Linked DNA regions of Homo sapiens: regions 2 and 3 are each linked to region 1. Evidence: fine-mapped expression QTL. A gene starts in region 1. Each other region holds a variant in brackets. All regions are shown on one strand. Distances are from middle to middle.

Region 1 (2,682 bases):
AGCAGTCCTTTGCTTAAAATAGGCATGCACCCTAATTTGAGAAGAAACTGGCAGAGGATAAAAGTGGGTTTCTTTGCTCTTCCCCAGTATTCTAGAAGCTGCTTCATTATCAGAGTTGGAGTCATCTGATGGATAACTGGACATGTTTCTTGGTGTTTTTTTTGTGTATGGCTATACTTCTTTATACTCTTTTGGGTTGCTGTCTTACATACTGCTTAGTGACTTGCTTACCAATAATTTTCCTAGCCTAACCCAGGACAACCATGTTGTCTTTTGGTCTTGACTTTTCCATATGAGACTGCATGTCTTATTGTCACTCCAGTCATGCAGCAACTAACTCTAGACAGGCAGTCATGGACATAGGATTCCATTTTTTTTTTTTTTTTTTTTTCTGCAAGGAAATCCAAGGACTCCAGTTATTAGGTCAAAGATGTTGCTCGTATTCCAGGTAATTCATATTTGCTGGTGAAGTTTTATTTGCCATGCAGTGCCCACAAAAGTAATCCTAGAAATGAGCAGTACTGTGAGGCATAGCACAACACATCCACATTTTATGTGGAGGATATGATCCAGTGGCATTTTATTTAGTGTGAAACTTCTGTCTTCTAAAAGGGAAGATTCTTTTGGAAGGATGGTCTCCTGCTGTGTAATACTTCATGAATTTCTAGTTTAAAAAAATTAGATTTTCCAAAGATCCACTACTATGTACACATTTCAAAATAAATCACCCAGTTAACTCAAAACAATCTTATCGTGAGAAATTTTGGAAAGCTTGAGTTACTTCTAAGAGTTAAAAATGTTCTTTCCTCCTCTTCTGCATGTCAGACTGCACATGATTACTCTGATGTTTCCGTAAATGCTATTAGTGCACTATGAAAGTGGGAAAGAACTTAAAAAAAAAAAAATCCGGGAGGGCAACAAAGCAATAAGAAGGATCATAGGGCACCATGTTAATAACAAATCACAGGAGGTGGCTCCATAAAGGTTGTGAAAACTAGTTTCTCATTGCAGGAATTGGGTTGGGCCACCCCTTCACCCCCCTTCTCAAACACAAATATTATCATATAATAAAAGCCTGCTTCTCTATGCTTATAACCCAGCCTCCATTCCTTCGACGCCACCATTTTAAAGGGATTTACTGCACGGACTTCTCCCAAGTTCCTAGGCATTATCTTCTGGACCCTATCCTGCAGAGGTGAAGCGTCCCTTTGGGGACTCTCGCTGGGTGAGAGGGACAAGAAACACCCACTAGGACCCAACCCCGGCAGCCAGCGGCTCGAGCATGCGCTGAGAGTTTGTGCAGCTGGCCCTGGCTGCCGCCGCTGCCTCGTCCGGACTCGGAGAGGACTTGGGAGGGACAGCGGCGCTGGGAGGTGGCTTAGCAGAGACTTTCCAGCAACTGCTGCCCAGGACTTTTTTTTTTTTTTTTCTTTTTCCCAGGAGGCGGCGACGGCGGCGGCGGGGGGAGAGGAAGAGAAAGAAGCGTCTCCAGCTGAAGCCAATGCAGCCCTCCGGCTCTCCGCGAAGAAGTTCCCTGCCCCGATGAGCCCCCGCCGTGCGTCCCCGACTATCCCCAGGCGGGCGTGGGGCACCGGGCCCAGCGCCGACGGTAAGTGGCCACGCGTCTGTCGCCTTTCCTGCCCGCTGTCCCGCCAGCCCGCCGGCGGCTGCCCTCCGCGCTGTGTGCTAAACTACTTAAGGGCTGGCTCTGGGGCTCCCTGCCGCCGGCGCTTCCCCTCGCGCCCTGCCGGGGGCGCGCGGACGCGATGGCTGGGTCGGTGGCCGCGCTCGCTTTGTGCTCCGCGGGCGGCTTTGAGCGAGGGGTCGCGGGAGCGTCCCGGGCGGGGGAAGCGGGGTTTGAATGACTAACCCGGCGTCTGCACAGCTGCATCGGCCCTAATTCCCCGGCGCCCCCCGCCCCCCGCCCACTGTCCCAGGCTAATCCATCATTCTGGGGCCGAAAACATCATTTCTCACGTTCTCCCAGAGAAACCCTAGTAGCCGGGCGGAATCTCAACTCCGCGCTGCCCCCTCGCCCCCGCCCCCGCCCCCGCCCCGCCGCCCCAGTCCCTTGCATTCACACCCGAGCTGCGGGACGGGGTAGAGGGGTGCGGAGTTGGAGTGCCCAGGAACTGTCCTAACTAGAAGGGCGCTCATTCTCTCGGGCTTGCCGGTGGCGCCTCTGACGTGTCCGGGGTAGGGGGCAGTGTGGTTTCTCACCTTCAGGACAGTGCCGAGCACAGCTGTCCTCGAGGAGGGGCGTGGAGTGAGGGAGGTTTTCAAGAGCGTCTCATCAGAATGCACAGGGCTCCGCCGCGTGTCCCCTGAGAACGCGAGTTTACTGTGCGACTTCATTCATCCGGATAGTTGCTCTTTTCTTTTCCCAGCAGGTGTTATCTGAAGCCGGTTTGGAACTTTTGGGAGTTTAGTTACCATTATGATTTTAACAAATGATTTTTGATGAGGCGATGTCTCGAATGCACTGGGCCTCGGGACCCTCTGGACCCTGCTGAGGGCGGGTGGAGGAGGGACGGGCAGGCTGTGGGAAGCGTGATGGTGAGATGTCCCGTGTTCTCTCTCCCCCGCCCCCTGCAGATCGCTGCCGTTTTGCCCTTGGGAGTAGGATGTGGTGAAAGGATGGGGCTTCTCCCTTACGGGGCTCACAATGGCCAGAGAAGATTC
Region 2 (2,682 bases), 67 kb before region 1:
ATAGCAGTTTTACAAGTACTTGTCTAACACTGAAACCCAAGTGATTAATGTTTAACATCAACAAAAATAAGGCAAACCAATATCATGTGCCCCTAATATGATGCTCTGGAAGAACCCAACATTACTACTGTAGCATTCTACAGAAATGTAGTATTCTGTAACAATCTATAGAAAAATGTGTAACCTGAATCTAATCATAGGGGAATATCAGACAAACCCAAATTAGGGGATATTCTACAAAATAATTGACCTATAGTCTTCAAAATTGTAAGCCAAAAAAAAAAAGAGAATAATTTCAAACTAAAGGAGACCAAAGGACATGACATATGATCTTTGATTACAATGTTGACCAGATTTTTCTTTAAAAACATTATTAGAACAATTGAGAAAAAAATATAGTCTTTAAATTAGATAATATTACTGAATCATTGTTAATTTCTTGATTCTTGTATCAAACTGTAGACATGTAAGAGAATGATTTTTTTCTTAGGGATTATGCGCAGAAGTATTTGGAGCAGAGAGAATCATGGCTGTTAACTACACATTTTTTTTTGAACAATTACAGAAATTTGTTTTTATGAACAATTTTTTTCTAAACAGTTTTTTATTATCTACATATATATCAAAATGTTATCAAATATCAATAATTGGAGAATCTGCGTGAAGAATAAATGTGAAATTATTTCAAATATAACATTAGACAAGAAAAGTTTGGCTGTCCTTTTATTCAAGGCAGAGGAAATCTACTGTAGAGCTAAGGAAGCTTCAGCGTCAGAGCCCCACATTGACTTGAATCTCTTAATAAGGTTCTGGAAAGGACTCTAGTGTTGATATGGAGTGTTAGTCCTAGGGTTGCTGTAATAAATTACCAGAAACATGATGATTTAAAACAACAGAAATTTCTTCCCAGTTCAGGGGGCCAGAGGTCCGAGATCAAGAAGTCACAGAGCTGCACTCTCCCTGGAGGCTCTAGGGGAGAACACTGCCTTGCCTCTTCTGGCTTCTGGTGGCGGTAGGCATTCCTTATGTCTGTGTCACTTCGTCTTCAGATGGCCTTCTCTGAGTCTATGTCCTCTCTCATAAGGATGTTTATCTTCTCTCATAAAGACGCCTGCCTTCTCTTTTCTTAAAAGGATGCTTGTCAGTGGACTCAGGGTCCACCTCGGCAATTCAGAATGGTTTCCTCTTAAGATCCTTAACTAAATTGCATCTGCAAAGACTCTACCCAAATAAGGTCACATTTATGGGACTGGGGGCCAGGACATAGGCATATCTTTTGGGGGGCCACCTTTCAACCCACCACCACATGTGGTTTTATGATTTTTGTAAAATTTGCAATGAAATGTTTTCACTTGGTTAAAACCTCTTTCTTTCCACTTCA[G/A]CATTCTCTCTGTTACACTTATCCTTTGGTTGGGTGGCTTTGGAGTTCTGAGCAAGTTGAGGATCTGATGGGAATTCGAGTAAGACATACCTTTTATGTGAATCTAGGAAGATATATTTATGTAGTTTGTAGGGCTGGCTTCTAGGAATACTTTCGTGCCTGCTGTACTGACTCACACTGTTCTGACACAAAGGTGCAGGGTCATACCCATACCATCCTATAGATGTGTGCTATAGCAATGAGCACTGGAAGTAGATGGATCAAACAGAGGGGTCAGGGGCAGGGGAGGTTTGAGGGACACATTTTAAATAGATGAAACAAGAAGTATGTGGAAACTTCTTACAATTATGTGATGTATAAAATTATGAGCAGGCTGGTTGTGGTGGCTCACACCTGTAATCCCAGCAATTTGGGAGGTAGAGGTAAGCAGATCACTTGAGCCCAGGAGTTCAGGACCAGCTTGGGCAATATGGCAAAACCCGGTTTCTACTAAAATTACAGAAAAATTCGCCAGATGTGGTGACATGCATCTGTGGTCCCAACTACTTGGGAGGCTGAGGTGGGAGGATCACCTGAGCCCAGGAAGTCGAGGCTGCAGCGATCCGTGGATCGTGCCACTGCACTCCAGCCTGAGTGACAGGAGTGAGACCCTGCCTCAAAAAACAAAAAAGCAAAAGATTCGGTTCTCATCAATGCCTTGTCAAAAATAGTCTCCCTTATTAGCAATATACTTGCTGGTGAAATATGTAGAATTATAAATGCATAATGTATACTTTTTTCAATATGGAGATTCAGCAAAATTATATTGATCAGAATTCTTATTTGTGAGTCACCAAAGTTTTGTAGTACTATAAGCAATTAATGTAACTGTGAAGTCACACATCTTATGTTTTCAAATATATTAGATTGTATCTTAGCCTGTTTGCTGTAAAATGAACTGAAGAAGTCTGGCTGTTACAACCAAAATATGTAAATTGCTACTGACTCAGTGAAATGACCTGAAGAAATACTAGTTCAGTAAAAAAACTCTTATCAACGTCCATCAATAAGCCAATGTGTGTAGTATTAATTTACACAATTATATACCTCAGTACAGTACTGTCAGTTTAAAAATGGCTTTTTCTTTAATTTCACCTTAGTTTTCTTCTTTCCTTTTTTTTTTTTTTGAGTCAGTGAGACAGGGTCTCACCCTGTCACCCAAGCTGGAGTGCAGTGGCGTGATCATGGCTCACTGCAGCCACAATCTCCTGGGCTCAGGTGATCCTCTGGCCTCAGCCTCCCTAGTTGCTGGAACTACAGGC
Region 3 (2,682 bases), 24 kb before region 1:
AAAATAGACAAAACTCCAAAAGAGTTCAGATTACAATCCAAAATGCATTTAATATTAGGAAGAGTTGTATGATTTGATTAAAGTGAGAAAAGGTAGGATTGCCTTACACTCAAATGTCTTTACCCCTAGGTGTGAATACATCTACTTATCTTAAGAACTAAGGAAAACAAAATCCAATTAAGAGATATGGCCACCTAGGTGGAAGTTATAGATTCTAACCTGACTTGAAAATTAGATAATAATGTAACTCATTTTTAATGGATATGAGCCACATGAAATGTTTCTCTTTCATTTTTGAAGTCCTATTAACAGTGTGTTATAATTTATAGGAGCTGATACGTTCCATCCATATCAGAGACAGGATCCAGTCTCATTGCTCAACTATCCTCTGATCATTGAAAAGCTGAGAAGGCAGCTCCAAAAATTATGTAGGGATATAACCCCCAAAATGTTGTGAGATGGTATGTTTCCTTTGTGGAAAAGCATTTTTTATATCTGGGGAGACTTAGAATTAATAGTAGATATGTTTAAGGCAACCACAATGTGATATTACTATTTTTACATTAATTAACATGCATGTATTTGCTATAATAAGCATCCATAATGATTAAAGACTTTGTTAGAATAACAGATCAAGCTTGTAACACCATTTTAAAATGTCTAATTGAGAGTTGATTTAGAAATGTGTATGTAGACTGAATACAATTAAGTATAAATGTGATATTTGATTATTTAAGGAAAATTAAAAGAAACCATTTAAAAGTTTTATTTATTAATTTTATAAGTATTACTTAATACTTGAGAAAGTTTATTAGATAAATGTAAGTATGTGTAGAAAGAAATTGAGTATATAAAGGTATTAATGTAGTTTAAAATGTTAAAATGAGTTTAATTAACAAGGTTTATAACTGGTTCTAGATAGTTACTAAGGGCTTCCTTTAAAGAGATTGAAAATTTGCTAGCTTTGTAAATGGAGTAATAAGGCTTTTAAAATGAACTGAAAACCATAAAAAGAAGTAATCATTTTAAATTATGACATGAATAAATTGAATAAAGAAACTAACATAATCTGTTAATAATTTTTTACGACATAAAAATTAGTCTGGTAGAAACAAAACTCTCATTTAATAGGAATCACTTTTAGCATACAGACAAATCAAGTTTCTGATGTTAAAAAATTGAGGTAGGTTTCTATATCAGACCA[C/T]GGGAATTCATCAAGATAATGCTAACCCAGGATGACTGGGGAGGCAGACAACTGACCTTTAACATACCACATTCTAATAGCATTATTAGCAATTCCTTCCATTTTAGAATTAATATAATTTGTGGCCGGGTGCGGTGGCTCACACCTATAACCCCAGCACTTTGGGAGGCTGAGGCTGGTGGATCCTCTGAAGTTGGGAGTTCAAGACAAGCCTGACCAACATGGAGAAACCCTGTCTCTACTAAAAATGCAAAATTAGCCGAGCGTGGTGGCACATGCCTGTAATCCCAGCTATTTGGGAGATTGAGAAAGGAGAATCGCTTGAATCCCGGAGGCGGAGGTTGCGGTGAGTGAGATCGCGCCACTGCACTCTAGCCTGGGCAACAAGAGCGAAACTCTGTCTCAAAAACAAAAAAATTAATATAACTTGTTTATTGCCTCATTAAAATACATTATCTTTTTAATAACTGAATATTTAAAAATACAACATATCATCAAGATTAAAGCACACAAATCCCAGCACTTCGGGAGGCCGAGGCGGGTGGATCACGAGGTCAGGAGATCAAGACCACAGTGAAACCCCGTCTCTACTAAAAATACAAAAAATTAGCTGGGCGCAGTGGCAGGCGCCTGTAGTCCCAGCTACTCGGGAGGCTGAGGCAGGAGAATGGCGTGAACCCAGAAAGCGGAGCTTGCAGTGAGCCAAGATCGCGCCACTGCACTCCAGCCTCGGCTACAGAGGGAGACTCCGTCTCAAAAAAAAAAAAAAAAAAAAAAAGATTAAAGCACACACTTTAAGTGATAATCATAGGTTCTTATGATAAGCAAGTCAGTTCTACTAATAATGAAGACAGGATTGTAACTTTAATAATGTAATTTACTTAATGATTTTTTCATGAGTTTGCACTTCAAAATGGCTTTTGTCCCTTCTCCAGAATTTATTGTGATGACTGAATAGATCACTAGTTATCAGTGACAAGGGGGTTGGGGAACCAGAGAGACTTTGGTTTGAATCCCAATTCAACCTTGTACTAGATCTGAGAACTTGGGCAAGATATGTAACCTCTTACTTTTCTAATTGGGGATGATAATACTTATACTATAGGGTTGTGGTGAAGCTTAGAAGTATTATATGAAAAGAATTGTTACATAATGACCTATAAATAATAGATGTGATTCTTAATGGTAGTGTGAAAATAAGGTTGTTTGTGTTGTTAGGTGAGAAAGGGTTAGTTTCTGCAGAAGGGTCAGCATGGGTGTGTGGATGAAAGACTAGCTGCCTTGACAACATGCTGCTGCAGTGAATCATGGCTGGCAGCCAAATGGAGGCTCCAAAGACCCTTCTGCAAAGTTAGCCAATGGTCTACATAATGTAAATAATACCCTGCCAGAACTCTAAGTCATAGAGTTGGAGTTCTGGCCTCATGCAATCTCCCAGAGATTGCATACCCTACACCCCTAAGTGACACAATTGTCTA

Alleles and levels. Alleles are on the strand shown, and positions count from the first base shown. SD is a standard deviation of normalised expression in the study named. Not every link is listed here.
In carriers of allele A in region 2, the expression in coronary artery of the gene that starts at base 1,285 in region 1 tends to be higher than with G alone (moderate effect, 0.48 SD a copy in GTEx).

Evidence for each region. PIP is the estimated chance that this variant, and not a neighbour inherited with it, causes the effect.
Region 2: its variant is the best candidate, but not a certain one, in a credible set for the expression of TSPAN12 in coronary artery (GTEx, PIP 0.80).
Region 3: its variant is the best candidate, but not a certain one, in a credible set for the expression of TSPAN12 in nasal epithelium (TOPMed, PIP 0.67).

What each region holds. Positions count from the first base shown.
Region 1 is chr7:120,856,747-120,859,428 of GRCh38, reverse strand. TSPAN12 (tetraspanin 12) reads left to right here and starts at 1,285. Exons shown (of 8, transcript NM_012338.4): 1 at 1,285-1,609; 2 at 2,596-2,682. The coding sequence starts at 2,666. LOC124901733 (a long non-coding RNA gene) reads right to left here and starts at 2,594. Exons shown (of 2, transcript XR_007060491.1): 1 at 2,221-2,594. RefSeq lists silencers at 1,631-1,930, 2,123-2,342.
Region 2 is chr7:120,923,910-120,926,591 of GRCh38, reverse strand. No RefSeq gene overlaps it. Among named protein-coding and RNA genes, the nearest start is that of ING3, 26 kb to the left of the region's middle. The variant G/A (reference allele first, on the strand shown) is at 1,382.
Region 3 is chr7:120,880,888-120,883,569 of GRCh38, reverse strand. All of the region lies in intron 1 of LOC124901733 (a long non-coding RNA gene), which reads right to left. Among named protein-coding and RNA genes, the nearest start is that of TSPAN12, 24 kb to the right of the region's middle. The variant C/T (reference allele first, on the strand shown) is at 1,205.